Linked DNA regions of Homo sapiens. The protein of the gene in region 1 interacts with the protein of each later gene in a biochemical or structural test. Each region holds a gene or a part of one and is shown on either strand. Other genes may lie near its edges.

Evidence for each region.
Region 2: the proteins of PIM2 (region 1) and FBP1 form a complex in vitro, tested with the Homo sapiens proteins (one study listed by BioGRID).
Region 3: the proteins of PIM2 (region 1) and HSF1 form a complex in vitro, tested with the Homo sapiens proteins (one study listed by BioGRID).

What each region holds. Positions count from the first base shown.
Region 1 is NC_000023.11:48,917,451-48,921,195, reverse strand, and holds the start of PIM2 (serine/threonine-protein kinase pim-2), read left to right. Parts: upstream 1-2,171; 5' UTR 2,172-2,361; coding exon 2,362-2,422; intron 2,423-2,550; coding exon 2,551-2,660; intron 2,661-3,364; coding exon 3,365-3,415; intron 3,416-3,745. UniProt on the Homo sapiens protein: Proto-oncogene with serine/threonine kinase activity involved in cell survival and cell proliferation.
Region 2 is NC_000009.12:94,618,836-94,622,580, forward strand, and holds part of FBP1 (fructose-1,6-bisphosphatase 1), read right to left. Parts: intron 1,657-3,745; coding exon 1,494-1,656; intron 1-1,493. UniProt on the Homo sapiens protein: Catalyzes the hydrolysis of fructose 1,6-bisphosphate to fructose 6-phosphate in the presence of divalent cations, acting as a rate-limiting enzyme in gluconeogenesis. Plays a role in regulating glucose sensing and insulin secretion of pancreatic beta-cells.
Region 3 is NC_000008.11:144,308,515-144,312,259, forward strand, and holds part of HSF1 (heat shock factor protein 1), read left to right. Parts: exon of another isoform or gene 1-391; coding exon 392-500; intron 501-940; coding exon 941-1,077; intron 1,078-1,257; coding exon 1,258-1,382; intron 1,383-2,659; coding exon 2,660-2,735; intron 2,736-2,806; coding exon 2,807-2,868; intron 2,869-2,990; coding exon 2,991-3,087; intron 3,088-3,185; coding exon 3,186-3,322; coding exon of another isoform or gene 3,323-3,363; intron 3,364-3,448; coding exon 3,449-3,730; intron 3,731-3,745. UniProt on the Homo sapiens protein: Functions as a stress-inducible and DNA-binding transcription factor that plays a central role in the transcriptional activation of the heat shock response (HSR), leading to the expression of a large class of molecular chaperones, heat shock proteins (HSPs), that protect cells from cellular insult damage.

The DNA.
Region 1 (3,745 bases):
CCACCACACTCCAGCCTGGGTGACAGAGCGAGACTCAGTCTTAAAAAAAAAAAAAAAAAGTGATATCTACTCCCTCATGCTTCTGCTGTGATCATCTAGAGGGAATATGTATGATCAAAGTAACGTACTACCTGGGCACAGTGCTTGGCACATTGAGAGAGCACAAATGTTAGTAGTATTCTTTTTGTAGAAGTTTCTGCACCATTTGGCCCCTGCCAATCTCTCGCCGCTCTGTCCAGTGTTCTTGGCCTTTGCCTGCAATTTGCCCTCCCCTGTCCTGAGCCACCAACCTTCTTTGTCTTTCAAGACAGAGGGTCACCTGCTGAGAAGCCCATTCACATTCTCACTTCTATCTAAAAATCTCCCCAGTAGCTGTACTACAGATAAACTTCATGGCACGGGTTTGATGCCTGACTTATCTGTACATCTCTGATACCAACATCCCCATCAAGGCCTGGCAGGCTTATAGCAAACCACCCCCAATAACGTTGGGTGAACAAAGGAGAGTACATGTGTGCTTTTTTGGTGTTGTCTGTGTGTGTGTGACTGTGGTGAGTCCAAGTCTTCATGTGCAGCTCACAGAGTGTCCCCAGTTGTGTGTGTGATGAAGGGCTTGTTTCCAGGTGTGTCAGATGGTGACTGAGTGTGGGACTCTTATCTCTGACAGTTTGTGTCTAAATCCAAGATGCGTGCATGCCTGCGTGGGTCTGTCTGTGACAGTGCATCTGTGGTTTCTGTCTGATGGGGTGGATGTCCGTTTGTGTTCCTGCAACAGATTCTGGGTAGCTATTTCTGGACAGTTTGTTCCATTGATAAACTGCATGTGTCATGGTGTATGTATGTCTGTGTCTGAACAGGTCTATCCATGTCTGTTTTTGTGACACTGCCACAAAATGTGATTCTATCACATCAGTACATGTCTGCCTTCAGAGCAGTGCATGTGTGTCCCTGGAGCATCTGTGCATCTTCCTGTGACAGACTCTGCGTCTCTCATTTCTGGGACAGTACAAGTCTTGCTGTGACAGTGCATATCTGATGGTGACAGTGTGTTTGTGACAAGTTCTGCCAGTGTGACGGGACATTTCTGTGTCATCACATGGCAAATGTAGGTCTGCGTGAGTGCCTTTCTGTAACAGTGTATCTCTGGGTGTCATTCTAGGACATAACTATTTTTCTGACAGTGTGCTTGCCTGAAAGTGTATGTCAGTCTCTGGCTGCATGTGTATCTAGGTCGTTTCTGTGAATGTGTCTGACAGTATGTGTTTGTGTATATCTTGGCATTCATGTGTCTTTGGAGTGCATTTTTCTTCCTGGGGTGTGGCGCCTTTTCTGGCTGTTTTTCACAAATTTGTGTCTGAGAGTTGCCACTTCTCTAGCAGCCTCTATCATGTCTCTCAGTCCTTGCCTCTCTCAACTCCAAGAGCAGCCCCATGCCACCACCACTCTGGGCTCACCCCCATCCCCCAAGAACCACCCCCTGCTGTTCTAGATTCTAGACTTGCTGACTGGGCCCAGGGCTCAGGGTTAAAAGCTCCAATAAACACTCACCAGGCAATGCTGCCTTTGACCAATGCACACCCGTGGCGTTGATGGTAGGGGTTCCCCCTCCCTGGCTACCAGATATTTCCAGGGCCCTGGCCTCAGCTTTCCAGTGAAGGCCGCCAGTCGCCTGGAGGACTCCGGTGAAGGAGTCCGACAAGCACCTTTCGAGACGGAGTCTTGGATAGCCACAAGCGCGAATTCTTAGAAGCCCGGCCTGGCGCTATCTCTGTGCTAATATCCAGGCAGCGGCGGCAAACCAACTTCCCAGGAAAGGATACTGCGCAGTTATTTTTTAAGTGTAAATACACACACACACCGCCACCACTACCAACAACAACCCCGCGCAACAACCAAAACAAGCGCGGTGCTGCAAAGGGATTCCCAGAACCGGTTTCCTCTTGGTGTGAGCCCCACCTCAAGCCCCCTCATTTACATGCAGGCCCCGCCTCCTCGGAAGAACCGAGCGTGTATTTGCATAAGGGGGCCCTTGAAACGATGAGGGTGGTATGCAAATAAGAACTGGCTCCGATTGGCTGTGGTACAGCAGGTGCCGCGTCCGGATTGATCAAAGCCAGGTGGGCGGGGCTGTCGCCCAGGGTGACTCTCCCGGGAGGCGCGTGCCCAGGCTCAGTAGCATTGGGGCTGGCGCGCGCGGCGAATCTCAACGCTGCGCCGTCTGCGGGCGCTTCCGGGCCACCAGTTTCTCTGCTTTCCACCCTGGCGCCCCCCAGCCCTGGCTCCCCAGCTGCGCTGCCCCGGGCGTCCACGCCCTGCGGGCTTAGCGGGTTCAGTGGGCTCAATCTGCGCAGCGCCACCTCCATGTTGACCAAGCCTCTACAGGGGCCTCCCGCGCCCCCCGGGACCCCCACGCCGCCGCCAGGTGAGTACATCCTCCCCTACTGCAACCAGACGGGGTGGGCTGGAATGATGGGTTGCAGCGCGGGGGGAGGGAGTCGTGGCTGGGCTCAGCACGCCGCCACCCTGACTTCCTCGCCTCCGCCTGCGTAGGAGGCAAGGATCGGGAAGCGTTCGAGGCCGAGTATCGACTCGGCCCCCTCCTGGGTAAGGGGGGCTTTGGCACCGTCTTCGCAGGACACCGCCTCACAGATCGACTCCAGGTATCCGTCATGAGGGTCTTGGGAGGGTCAGGTGCGTGTGGCGGGGGCGGGGGTCCTGGCCCTGGAATGCTGGTTGACCGAGGAGTGAGCCTGCAGAGTGTGTAGAGGACCAGGTGTGTGTGTGTGTGTGTCCGTGTCCGTGTCCGAGGAGTGAGCCTGCAGTGTGTGTAGAGGGCCAGGTGTGTGTGCGTGCGCGTGTGTGTGTCGGTCTAGGAGGTTATGGGCGGGGGGGGGGGGCAGGGGGCTTCAGATTCCGGAGTTCCTTGACCCCGGGGTCCAGGCTGTGTATGTGTGGGAAAGCAGGGACCTAGATGTGAGATTTGTGGGACTTTTGGAGGTAGGTGTCCAGTGTGGAGTCATGCGGACCAGGACCCTGGTACAGAGTTGGGGTGTCGTAGAGCTAAATAGGAAGATTGTGGGCCTGGGGTATCAGGAAATCTAGAACTCAGGACTTGGAGTGATGAGTCCTGATGCCTGAGAACGGAGAGCCCAGGGCTAAGGAAGGTGGGAGAGATAAACTTGGTTCCGAGGACCTGGAGGGCAGGGGAGACGCCCTGGTACGCGTTCTGTGGGGTGCTGTGGTTGGGGACCAGAAAGACTAGAGTGCTGGTAGATGGAGGAATACTGGAGGTAGGCAGAAGGTCTAGACTGGGAGGGGTCTGGGGATCACCTGCTGGCCTCCTTATCACGGCCTTCTTCTCCAGGTGGCCATCAAAGTGATTCCCCGGAATCGTGTGCTGGGCTGGTCCCCCTTGGTGAGTACCTTCGGAGCCCTTCCTAACCTACCTACTCCATCACTGATGTATTCACCTCCTTGCTTTTCCAGGGGATGTATGACTCCCTGGGCCCTGTAACAGTGAGAATACTGCCAGCCCATTTATACTCCCTTGGGGTGACATACAGTTCTGATTCACCCCAATTCCCCTAGAGCCCTGGATTCTCCCCTCCAACAAACCTTTACCATCCTTCCTCCAAACACTGCTGGGGGACTGCCCGCAGGGCGTGCTGGTGGGGAACAAGGGGCAGAGGTCACTGGTTGCCATGGTGATGGTGGCTGCTTCTCTCTTGCCGTTATAACGCTAACG
Region 2 (3,745 bases), on another chromosome or scaffold:
TTAAAATCAACGATGGGAGAGTATTCACACCATTGACAGAGGCAAGTGGACATATCAGAGACTTGTTTGTTTGCTTTGAGACCCAGTTTACCAGCACATCACTGGGAGTTTTCCATCTCCAAATTAGCCACTTTACAATGTCGTTTTTAAATGTCTGTAGCAGATTAACATGATTCCCTGCCCTCTTGCTCTTCACAGACCACCCTCACTAATGCAGGAGGAACTGGAAACTGGAACACAGGAAGCTGCCTATCATGAAGGCCCATGATAGACAAGAGAAGTCCGGCGTGAGTGATGGAGAATATTAAACAACAAATCTAAGCCATACGCCTAAAGCTGCCAAAGACCTTGAAAGGCCCAGCTGAGAAAAACATGAACTTCAAGTCTGGCATGTACGGCTATTTTAGGAATGATGAAAAACAACTTCATCAGATGTGGCTCCTGCCCTCTTAATAGGGTGAGGACAGGCAGCCTCTTCATCTTCTCATTGTTTTTTCCTAATTCTACTCCTTCATGTTCCCAGTTCCTCTCAAACTGGGAAAGATAGTAAGCCCATATAACTGCACTTCTAATCTCAGAAGTTTTTTTTTCTAATTACAATTGTTGTTTTATAAAAGCTGGGAATACTCTTTCATTTAACAATCTTTTTCAACAGTCATTTGTTGTTGAGGCCCTCCAATGTGCCAGGCATTGCACTAGACACTGGGACACAGAGACAAATAAGATTCATTTTCTGCTCTCAAAAAGCAGAGATAACGCCAGGTGTGGTGGCTCACACCTGTAATCCCAGCACTTTGGGAGGCCAAGGTGGGCGGGTCACTTGAGGTCAGGAGTTCAAGGCCAGCCTGGCCAACATGGTGAAACCTCATCTCCACTAAAAATACAAAAATTAGCCAGGTGTGGTGGCGGGAACCTGTAATCCCAGCTACTCAGGAGGCTGAGGCAGGAGAATCGCTTGAACCCAGGAGGCGGAGGTTGCAGTGAGCCAAGATCACACCACTGTACACCAGACTGGGCAACAAGAGCAAAACACTGTCTCAAAAAAAAAAAAAAAAAAAAAAAAAAAAGAAGCAGAGACAGACCAATAGGGACTCCAATGCGTGCATCAGGGATGGAAGTTTCAAGCAGTCTAGGTCAACAGGAGGGTCAGTGTGAAGGTCAGGAATTTGGTGGATAGGGATGTAGTACAAGAGGTGACCAACAGAAGCCAGGGTTTGAAGAGCCTTAAACATGGCAATAAAAAGTTAGAAATGGAGATGAGTTTGTGGGAGTCCACTGGGGAGAAGGCGGCGTGAGCCACAACACTCATCTGCACAGTGGCTCAGGGAGGATTCGAGAGATGGCAGCAGTGAGGTGGAAGCTATGAAAAGACCACAGCAGGGATCTAGAGGGACTCCCAGAAACCCAGCTCAGCTGAACAAGTGGAGTCAATTATGAAGCTGGGAAGAAGACCGGCTACATTAAAACCCTCAATGGTGGAAGTACAGACCCACCCTTTTCTCCGGTTCCACTATGATGGCGTGTTTATCTTCTTCTGACACGAGAACACACGTGGCAAAGGATGACTTTAACATGTTCATAACCAGGTCGTTGGAGAGGACGTCCAGCTTCTTAACTTGATCACCTGTCACGTTGGTAGAACCAGCAATGCCATAGCTACAGGGAACAAAAGCCACAAAAAATAAGCCATGACCACCAGAACATGTAGATGAGTCCATAAACCCACCAAAAGTGAGTGTTCGGTAAGATTTAGAAGAAAGAGTTCATGTCCTTTGCAGGGACATGGATGAAGCTGGAATCCATCATTCTCAGCAAACTAATACAGGAACAGAAAACCAAACACCACATGTTCTCACTCATAAATGGGAGTTGAACAATGAGAACACATAGACACAGGGAGGGGAACATCACACACTGGGGCCTCTCAGGGAGCTGGGGACTAGGGGAGGGAGAGCATTAGGAGAAATACCTAATGTAGATGACAGATTGATGGGTGCAGCAAACCACCATGGCATGTTTATACCTATGTAACAAACCTACGCATTCTGCATGTGTATCCCAGAACTTAAAGTATAATAATAATTTTTTTAAAAAAGGGCCGGGCGTGGTGGCTCACGCCTGTAATCCCAGCACTTTGGGAGGCTGAGGCGGGTGGATCATGAGGTCAGGGGATCGAGACCATCCTGGCTAACATGGTGAAACCCCGTCTCTATTAAAAAATACAAAAAAGTAGCCGGGTGTGGTGGTGGGTGCCTGTAGTCCCAGCTACTTGGGAGGCTGAGGCAGGAGAATGGCGTGAACCCAGGAGGCGGAGCTTGCAGTGAGCCGAGATCGTGCCACTGCATGCCAGCCTGGGCGACAGAGCGAGACTCCGTCTCAAAAAAAAAAAAAAAAAAAAAAAATACAAAAAATTAGCCGGGTGTGGTGGCGGGCGCCTGTAGTCCCAGCTATTCAGGATGCTGAGGCAGGAGAATGGCGTGAACCCGGGAGGTGGAGCTTGCAGTGAGCCGAGATCGCACCACTGCACTCCAGCCTGGGCGACAGAGCAAGATTCCGTCTAAAAATATATATATTTTTAGAAGAAAGGAAGGAGGACATCAGCTTGGGAGAACAAGGCAGGAAGGTCTGGACAGACCCTAGAGAGGAGGAGATACTATCATCTGCCTCTTCACCTCGAACCTGTCATGGTGCCCTGCACACTTTTGTGGTTAAATCAGTGTTTCTTAACTTTGTTTTCATTATGATTCCCCTAGGGAGCTTTTTAGAACATTTTTTCCTCAACCATACTCCCCCATGAAATATTTTTAATACTACAGATATAGTAGATATCTGTTTATTGCAGTATGTGTCTCAGTGCTTTTTACATAAAAAGTTTGCGGGTGTTTTTGGTTTTGCCCAGAAAGAACCAGTGTTGGCCCCCAAACACACGGGTTAAACGAATCAATAGAGAGACCCAGCAAGCAAGGAAGCCTGGGTCGGGGGTAGCCTGAGTTGCGAGCCAAGCCAAGGGGTTTATGGCTTTATAACTAAAAAGACCCTAAAAGAAACAAAGCATCAACCGGCCCCTCTGCCTCATTTCATAGAGGAGAAAACTCAGACCCAAGACTCCTGTGGACTTCTCCACACAGGCAGAGGGTAGAAGTGAGACGCTGCCTATGACTCCCAGGCAGAGGGTGGAGGCGAGACCCTGCCTATGACTCCCAGGCCAGGGCTCTCTTGGTGACACCCTGGGCCCCTGGCAGGAGTCCTAGGGCATGGAAGTTGCAGGGATCCTGGAGTTTTCACTATTTTTAAGCAACCTGCAAGTCAGTAATTATAGAATTCCCAGAATCCAGTGGCTTGTCTAAACGCAGCCTAGCTTCTTAGACTTACAGAAGCGGCAGGTTGTCATAGCCTGGGGTTGCCCTGAACACAGAAAGGAGGGAGACGTCTCACAGGAAGGATGCACAGAGCAAGGCGAGAGCCTTGATGTGGGAAGGGGAAAAGATGGGTCTTTGAAGACACCAGCAAGCCTCTGAAAGTGGGTGGTAAGGGCACACCCGCGCCCTTGGCCATGATGGCGATGTGCGCTCGCCTGGGAACTGACGGTCCCTGATCCAGTGGCCGTGACTGCTTCAGCTCCTGCAAGTGCATTTGCCCAAAACATAACTCGCTGTGACTGGCTGGGCAAAACTGAGCCCCTCCTAGAAACCATCCAAACCCACATGCCTGGTCCGGCCTGACTATCTCAGGAGCTAGCTCCGGC
Region 3 (3,745 bases), on another chromosome or scaffold:
TGAGTGGAAACGTGGCCAGAGTGCGGCGGGTGCTTTGTGAGTGGAAATGTGGCCAGAGTGCGGCGGATGCTTTGTGAGTGGAAACGTGGCCTTCTCTGGAAGCCCTGGGGAGGGGCTTTCCGACTGAGAGGAAGGCCTCGCATCTGCCCACCGCCCAGTCCTGGGCCTCACAGTGAGGATGCAGGTCACGCTGCACAGATGAGGCCCGTGTGGCAGGTGGTCCCAGGAACGAACTCGCCTCCCGCCAGCCCCCTGGGCCTCCCATGGCCCCAGCCCCATCAGGTGGAACGTGCACTGCCTGCGTTTCAGAAGGGGCGGCCTGGGGAAGGGGCGGCTTGGGCACGCTGCCCCTCACCACCACGCGTGACCCACCCATGTGTCTCCCTTTCAGAGCGGGAACAGCTTCCACGTGTTCGACCAGGGCCAGTTTGCCAAGGAGGTGCTGCCCAAGTACTTCAAGCACAACAACATGGCCAGCTTCGTGCGGCAGCTCAACATGTGTGAGTGCTGCCTCCAGGCAGCGCAGGGGTGCGGGAGGCAGACCTGCAGATGGCGGGACCCCAGCAGGAGGACCCTGTGATGAAGGACGGGGCGTCCTGTGCTGGCCAAGGGCATGGCGTGGGACCCTGCAAGCCTGGGGGCCGGGGAGCAGCCGCCTCTTCCATGGGGGAGGGTCCTTGTGGGTATGAACCTGGGGTCCCCATGGAAGAACCGTGAAGCCGGAGCTGTACTCCACGTGTGTCGGGCGCAGGGAGCCCTGTGGGGACACAGGGTCTCCCTTAGACCAAGGCCACTCGGCCACCCAGGCATGGGCTCTGAGGGGGCAGGGCAGGGTCTGACCATGGCCAAGCCCCGCAGCAGCCTCCTGGAGCAGTGGCCGCTCTTCAGGGGTTCTGGTCCCGCCCTGAGGCAGAGCTGCCCCCTTCCCTGTTATGTGCAGATGGCTTCCGGAAAGTGGTCCACATCGAGCAGGGCGGCCTGGTCAAGCCAGAGAGAGACGACACGGAGTTCCAGCACCCATGCTTCCTGCGTGGCCAGGAGCAGCTCCTTGAGAACATCAAGAGGAAAGTGACCAGTGTGAGTGCCGGCCCTGCACCCTTGCCCGGTCTCACCTGCCACAGCTCTCCCCGCCCGCCCCTCCCTGAGGGCTCCCACCCCAGCCTGCCCCTTCCTGAGGGACCTGGCTGCAGTGGACGAGCCTGAGCCTGCCAAGCTCCTAGGCTGCTCCAGTGACTCCTGTCCCTCTCGGGAATCCAGGTGTCCACCCTGAAGAGTGAAGACATAAAGATCCGCCAGGACAGCGTCACCAAGCTGCTGACGGACGTGCAGCTGATGAAGGGGAAGCAGGAGTGCATGGACTCCAAGCTCCTGGCCATGAAGCAGTAGGTCCCACACCAGCATTATGGGCCACAGCGGGTCCTGGCGCCCACCAAGAGGCCCCGGGTGCTGTGGGGGCAGGGCCCTGACCGGGGCCAGGTGCTCAGCTCCACCCTCCCGCTCCACGCACATCTACCCTGGGCCTCTGCCCCAGCCCCGCCGCCCGTGGCTGCTGCAACAGCTCTGGGGCCAGCCGTTTTCCATGTGCAGAAGGGGGTTGGGAGGGTCCCCTGCTCTGCACATCCCCAGCGCCCTCTGGGCCATTGGCTTCTGCCTGGCTCCGAGCTTGGCGGGACCCACCAGCCTACTTTTGAGGACAAGCCTTGCACAGCAGACCCGTCCCACCCGCCTCGGGCCTGGGGTCAGACCCACCTCAGGCCCTTCCTGGAACCGCTGTCCCACACTCGCCTGGGCCCATGGAGCTAGCCCCCAGCCCCTCCTCACCGGGACCCTGCGGCTCTGGGGAAACCTTAGCAGGAGCCTAACACACGGTGGCACCTGAGAAACTGAGGCAAGCCCACCTCGGAAGGCCAGCTCAGGTCTCACGTCCACTTTGGGGCTCCAGGCATGCGGGAACCCCAATGCCAGTACGGCTTCCTCGGCTCCGTGCAGCAGGCGCTCTTGACCCCCACGTCATGGAGGAGGCCTTGGCCTCAGACTCTCCTGCATGGGGTCTAGCAGGAGCCACCGGCTTTGTGATTCCTGGAGTCCGGCCACGTGGACCTGGCCTACCAAGAAGACTCACAGGCTTGACAGGGCCCAGCCTCCCAGAGCAGCAGGAGCGCGGTCATGGCCCTGCTCACCTGGCTGGGGACAGCTCTTCCCCACCCCTGAGCCACCTCCAGGCCTGGCGAGGGCCCTGAGCACCTACAGGACATGGGACAGCCAGTGTCGCAGCCTGAAGAACCGTCCTCCCTTAACCTGGCTGCTCAGGCCTTGGAAGGGCGGCCCAAGGGTCTGCTCCTGGCCTGTGTCCAAGGCAGCCCTCCAGGTGTTTGCCAGGATGGATGCCAGGATCCGGGTGCACCTGGCTCGCATGGATCCATCCCCAACACCCTACGTGACACCAGGTGTCCCCGGCAGGGAGGGGCAGTGGGACCAGCAAGCCCTGGCCCTGGCCCCCAGTCCCTCCACACACAAGTTCTCATCCTGGGGTGGGCCAGGCCAGACATGGTCACACTTACCCCTGCTCCTGCATGGGGGACAGGGAGGGTCTGTGGGGCTCCCTCAGCCCTGGGGCTCATGGGATTGGGCCCCACTGACCCAGCCTGGTCTGTTGCAGTGAGAATGAGGCTCTGTGGCGGGAGGTGGCCAGCCTTCGGCAGAAGCATGCCCAGCAACAGAAAGTCGTCAACAAGGTGGGGGCAGGGCCAGAGGGCCGGCGGGGGCCCCACAAGGGCCGGGGTAACTGTGTCCTCTCTCTCCACAGCTCATTCAGTTCCTGATCTCACTGGTGCAGTCAAACCGGATCCTGGGGGTGAAGAGAAAGATGTGAGGTTTTGGGGATGCCTGCATCCACCACCCGGGGCCCAGGGCTGTCCCCCTTCTCTGTCAGCTGTGCCCCGGGTACCCCGAGGTGGGGGGTGGTGGCTGACCTGCACCCTTCCCCACAGCCCCCTGATGCTGAACGACAGTGGCTCAGCACATTCCATGCCCAAGTATAGCCGGCAGTTCTCCCTGGAGCACGTCCACGGCTCGGGCCCCTACTCGGTGAGTGCCGGAGACAGGGCACCCGCCCAGGCATGCAGGCGGCAGTGGGGTGGGTTGCCCCTGCCGGCACTGCATGGACCTCCTGCCTTTGATTGCAGGCCCCCTCCCCAGCCTACAGCAGCTCCAGCCTCTACGCCCCTGATGCTGTGGCCAGCTCTGGACCCATCATCTCCGACATCACCGAGCTGGCTCCTGCCAGCCCCATGGCCTCCCCCGGCGGGAGCATAGACGAGAGGTGGGGGCCGCATCACCCCAGCCATCCTGTCCCCCAATGAGGCGAGCCCCTGTGGGCCCAGGGCAGAGTTGGGGATGAGGTGGGGCTGGCCGAGACGCCAGCTCACCTGGCCCCCCTCGTGTGCAGGCCCCTATCCAGCAGCCCCCTGGTGCGTGTCAAGGAGGAGCCCCCCAGCCCGCCTCAGAGCCCCCGGGTAGAGGAGGCGAGTCCCGGGCGCCCATCTTCCGTGGACACCCTCTTGTCCCCGACCGCCCTCATTGACTCCATCCTGCGGGAGAGTGAACCTGCCCCCGCCTCCGTCACAGCCCTCACGGACGCCAGGGGCCACACGGACACCGAGGGCCGGCCTCCCTCCCCCCCGCCCACCTCCACCCCTGAAAAGTGCCTCAGCGTAGCCTGCCTGGACAAGTGAGTGCCGCCCAC